Linked DNA regions of Homo sapiens: region 1 is linked to region 2. The links come from fine-mapping of genetic effects on gene expression. Tissue or cell type: whole blood. Region 2 holds a variant in brackets; the other region holds the start of a gene. All regions are shown on one strand. Distances are from middle to middle.

Region 1 (2,623 bases), 39 kb before region 2:
GTCTATTTCTGTTGGTAAAAGAGACTCAGAATACCAGATTTAAAGTAAATAATAAAGATAGCATAAACTATGTGATTTCCAAAAAGTGCTCAGCTTCCTCTGCCTGTTCTGGGCCTGTCTGTCCAACAGAATTCAGTGAAATCTGATTTCCTCATATTCTTTTTTAATTTTTTTTTTTTGAGATGGAGTCTTGCTGTGTTGCCCAGGCTGGAGTGCAGTGGCCTAATGTGGGTTCACTGCAAGCTCCGCCTCCCGGGTTCATGCCATTCTCCTCATTCTCCTGCCTCAGCCTCCCGAATAGCTGGGACTACAGGTGCCCGCCACCACGCCCGGCTAATTTTTATTTTTTTGTGTTTTTAGTAGAGACGGGGTTTCACCGTGTTAGCCAGGATGGTCTTGATCTCCTGACCTTGTGATCCGCCTGCCTCAGCCTCCCAAAGTGCTGGGATTACAGGCGTGAGCCACCGCGTCTGGCCTGATTTCCTCATATTTTTTAGGAAAGTGGAGTCAACTTATATTTGAGGAAGGCGTTTATAGGAATTTATGCTTATCCCAGAGATCTTGGTATGTTTTGTCAAGAATGAAAAGGCACGTGGGTCTGGTGGGGATGCAGTCAGATATTTGATCTCTTGACTGTGTTTCTTTTGAAGTAGTCTGAGGCTCAGACTTTGGGGCAGTGGCCCAGGCTTGGAGGCAACCCCCCAGTCTCTCTTTGCATGGGGAAGTGTGCAGAGTTCTCTTAGAACACCCAGTCACATGGTGTAGAGACTGCTCTTACACTTCCTGTAATCTCAGCATGGGAACAAGCCTTTGTGTCACACTGTGCAACCTTCCTCCCTTTCTTAAATGCTTGGGGTGAGAGAGAAGAGAGGCTAGGGTGGGGCATGGAGGACACAGAGAGAGAGAGTGCTGTGTATTCCTTCCCCGCTACTGTCCTGTCCTCAGCTAACTTGCTCTGGGACAGCTTCCCCAGGGCTACAGATACTGCACTCAGCTGACTGTCCTTTCTTCTGGGCCCCTGGTCCCAGAGCAGAGCTGACAAAGGAGATTCCTGAGAGAGCACCTTCTTATCACAGAAAGTGCTGAGCCAAGAGCTCCTAGCTGCCCCTTTTGCAGATGTGAAGGGCCAGTGAACCTTGGACCCAGATGGTTGCTTAATACTCCTTTCCCCCTCCCTCACTCCTTCCTTTGCGGGCTGCCTCACCTCCTCCACCCTTCTTGCTTAAATCCATAGGCATTTGTCTGGCCTTCCCTTTTACTGCTGGCTGGGAAGGAGGAGCATCAGACCACAGATCCTGGAAGGCACTTCTCTCCCTGACTGCTGCTCACACTGCCGTGAGAACCTGCTTATATCCAGGACCAAGGAGTGAGTGTGCGTTCCACCCTCTTCTCATCTCCACTTACCTTGCTAACCCTCCTCTTTGCTGCTGTGCAGTGTCTAATCGCTTCTTCTCCCGAGTGCCTCTCACCCTAACATCTCTCCATTGCTTGACTAGCCTCTCCCATTTTCCTCTCAGCTGTCTCCTGTTCGGTGTTTTCCAGCATGTGCTGCCTGGCTGCAGCTGTCTCCCTGCCTTGGCTCGGGGTGATATCTCTCCAGCAGCAACTCTGGGGTAGGGAGTGGCCATCAGCTGCCTCCAATCATCCCTAGGTTTTATGGTACATTGGATCGCCCTTCTCTCATTCATACTTTTTTGGGTGATTCAACGATGCTGATGTGAGGGATCGATAGCAGGAGGCTTAGAATACCAGAGAATGGGAAAGGAAAAGCAAGGAAAAGATAATAGCCTGTCTTCTTTCAGGGTGAAGTGGGTCTACTTGGGCTTTGCCAGGGCTGAAGACTCCAGCTAAGGGTTAAGGGATGCTCTTTGGGCAGGAGGATGGTTGTGGGTTTCCAGCAGGTTTCTGAAGCCTTTAGTTTTGGCAGACGTAGAGTCCTTGGGGAAAAGAGCAGTGTCATGAGACGCTCCCACAGATTAGCTGCTGGTAGGGTCAGTTCCTAATGTTGTACCTCAGCACAGGTGATCCCTGAAGCTGAAATTGGAGGGAAGACGGGTTTTGGATAAGGCTGAAAACTCGGGGTCAAGCCATTATAGTTATTTTCTGGGAGCCGCCACACTGCCCCCATGCCTGTCTTGTATTATAGCAGGCTCAGAGAGAACCAACATTTAGTGTTTTGTTTTTGATTTTGTTTTTTTTTTGAGACAGAGTTTTGCTCTTGTTGCCCAGGCTGGAGTGCAATGGCCCAGTCTTAGCTTACCGCAACCTCTGCCTCCCGGGCTCAAGTGATTCTCCTGCCTCAGCCTCCCAAGCAGCTGGGATTACAGGCATGTGCCACCACGCATGGCTAATTTTTGTATTTTTAGTAGAGACTGGGTTTCTAAATGTTGGTCAGGCTGGTCTCGAACTCCCGACTTTAGGTGATCTGCCCGCCTTGGCCTCCCAAAGTGCTGGGTTTACAGATGTGAGCCACAGCGCCCGGCCCAAGATTTAGTTCTCTATTTGGTGAGTCGGGTGGGCAGCAATGTCCTAATGATGAGAGACAGATCCTTTCTCTCTGGCGAATGAGTGCCTTCTCTTAAAAATTCAAGTTGGAGGCTGGGCAAGGTGGCTCACGCCTGTA
Region 2 (2,760 bases):
TTTTTTTGGCAGCCTTACTGTTAAGGATGCTTATAAAGATCATGGCTTTATTGGGCTACAGGGACCTTGAGAGCTCTTTGCATCTTTCTTTTGCCCACCAGTTAGGATGGCTCCTGAGGTTCTCAAACTGAGGAAGGGGTGGGCAGACATATCTTCCAGGCTGCTAGTCAGATACATACACTTCTCTTCCTACTGAAGGCCTATCTTATTCTCTGAAGATGTTAAATTTCACAATTTGCCTCCATAATTTCTTTTTATATTTCTCAACCTTGAGGCAAAATTGCCAATGTTGATAATCTTAGAGATGGAATCCTGACACCAAAAGATCTTTGGGGTATAAAACAAAACAACCTCCCATTTTCCTGTGCGTTATGATGCTGGGGACAGTCTTTGTTAATCCCCCCCGCCCTGCTTTTTTTTTTTTTTTTTTTTTTTTAGACAGGGTCTGGCTGCCTTGCCCAGGCTGGAGTGCAGTGGCCCAGTCATGGTTCACTGCAGCCTTGACCTCCCCAGGCTCAAGTGATCCTCCCACCTCAGCCTCCCAAATAGCTGGGATTACAGGCATGCACCACCACGCTTGGCTAATTTTTTTTTTTTTGGTTTGTTTTTGGAGACAGAGTCTCGCTCTGTCGCCCATGCTGGAGTGCAGTGGCACAATTTTGGCTTACCACAACCTCCGCCTCTCGAGTTCAAGTGATTCTCGTACCTCAGCCTCCTGAGTAGCTGGGACTACAGGTGCATGCCACCATGCCTGGCTAATTATTTATATTTTTAGTAGGAACAGGGTTTTGCCATGTTGGCCAGGCTGGTCTTGAACTCCTGACCTCAGGTGATCCACCCGGCTCGGCCTCCCAAAGTGCTGGGATTACAGGCGTGAGCCACCACGCCCAGCTGCTTGGCTAGTTTTTTGTAGAGACAGGGTTTTGCCATGTTGCCCAGGCTGGTCTCCAACTCCTAGACTCGAGCCATCTCCCTGCCTCAGCCTCCCAAAGTGTTAGTACTACAGGCATGAGCCACTGCTCCCAGCTGCACAGTCCTGTCTCCTAATATGATATTCCTTTCCCCTAATGTTCTTTAGTTCTTAAGTGTTCAGAGCTTCAGCCACTATCCAGGGCACCGTCAAAGACAAATGCATTGAGGAAATGTAGCAACAGTCTCCATCCCTGGAAAGACCGGTGTGGCAGGGAGAGTCTAAGGATTAAAGGAGAGATAGGGATATGACTGTGGGACTAATGTGCATTTTATTCTATTTGGCTGTAGGAACCTGCCCCTCTCCATTGGCATCTCCATGCCCATTGTCACCATCATCTATATCTTGACCAATGTGGCCTATTATACTGTGCTAGACATGAGAGACATCTTGGCCAGTGATGCTGTTGCTGTGGTAAAGGATTTTCACTAGCAGAAGGTTGAGGGTGTCTTGTGGGGTACTGGGTATATTCTGGCTCTTGAAAGTCCTGGAAAGGGGGTAGACAGCCTTGAAAGG[A/G]GTTCATTTAGAATACCGGGCTTGCAAGAAGGTCCTGTTAACCCCACTGTGGAAGAAAGGTTGGAATACCTAATAAGGGGAATCTGGGGGCATGCCCATCCATGTCTTTCATCCCTTTTAGATCCTGCTAATGACTCTTCCATTCTTTTCCCTTAGACTTTTGCAGATCAGATATTTGGAATATTTAACTGGATAATTCCACTGTCAGTTGCATTATCCTGTTTTGGTGGCCTCAATGCCTCCATTGTGGCTGCTTCTAGGTAAGAGTGGCAACTTTTGTGAGGGGTGTATCATCAAAGGGCTATGCAGTGGACAGAACTTACAGGACCCAGCCTTTGATTACTTGTGTTCTCCAACCGATACCACAACCTCTTTCTTCTTGTTTCTAGCAGAAGCCTGCAGTTGTCATTAATCTTAATACTGAGCTCCAGTCCATATTATCCAAATACTTTTGAAGGAAGGGATGGCAGAGAGGGAGGGCCATGTGGCAGGTGAACCAGGCTGCACCGTGTCCACCAATTTTCTCAGCTTCTCCTATCTTACCTAACATAGGCTTTTCTTTGTGGGCTCAAGAGAAGGCCATCTCCCTGATGCCATCTGCATGATCCATGTTGAGCGGTTCACACCAGTGCCTTCTCTGCTCTTCAATGTAAGTGAACTCAAGGATGAGACTGAAAGCCAGATTGCGGGGGAAACTTTAGTAACAGCAGAAGCGACTGTTCTAGCTTCCTGAAAGCTCTGAAAGATTCCAATAGAAAAACTATTGGTGGATCAGAATGTTCACCACGGGCAAGGCACTATGCTAACCGCTACAGGGGAAATCCAAATGCTCTAAGGAATGGTACACCTCTGCTCTAAGATAAGGCAAAAAGTACATGGAATACACTGTAATGATTGATTGCCATGACAGATAGTGAGTGATACGGTGTTTAAGAGAAGAAACGATCACTTCCATGGGAGTAGAGGGTGAAGAATTACATCTAGAAGTGTGTGTGTGTGTCTTAAAATCCACCAAAGTGTTCTCAGAAAAAAAAAGTGCATCTTGATGGCTAGGGTTGCAAATGGTAGAGATGGGCTTTAGGTAGGAGAAATAGCATCAGAAAATCCTGTGATAAAGCAGTATGGGTTTTAATACAGGTTGAGTATCCCTAATCTGAATATCCAAAATCTGAAATGCTCTAAAAATCTGAAACTTTTTGAGTGCTGACTTGACACTCAAAGGAAATGCTCATTGGAGCATTTTGGATTTTCAGAACAGGGATACTCAACATGTA

Evidence for each region. PIP is the estimated chance that this variant, and not a neighbour inherited with it, causes the effect.
Region 1: SLC7A7 starts here. The variant in region 2 is fine-mapped to the expression of SLC7A7 in whole blood (TOPMed, PIP above 0.99). The same link has a PIP of 0.9 or more in tibial nerve.

Annotation. Positions count from the first base shown.
Region 1 is chr14:22,814,063-22,816,685 of GRCh38, reverse strand. It overlaps SLC7A7 (solute carrier family 7 member 7), which reads left to right and starts at 1,251. Exons shown (of 10, transcript NM_003982.4): 1 at 1,251-1,366. RefSeq lists enhancers at 1,162-1,261, 1,450-1,956.
Region 2 is chr14:22,774,819-22,777,578 of GRCh38, reverse strand. SLC7A7 (solute carrier family 7 member 7) reads left to right here. Exons shown (of 10, transcript NM_003982.4): 5 at 1,261-1,384; 6 at 1,643-1,746; 7 at 2,039-2,135. Among named protein-coding and RNA genes, the nearest start is that of OXA1L, 9.5 kb to the right of the region's middle. The variant A/G (reference allele first, on the strand shown) is at 1,487.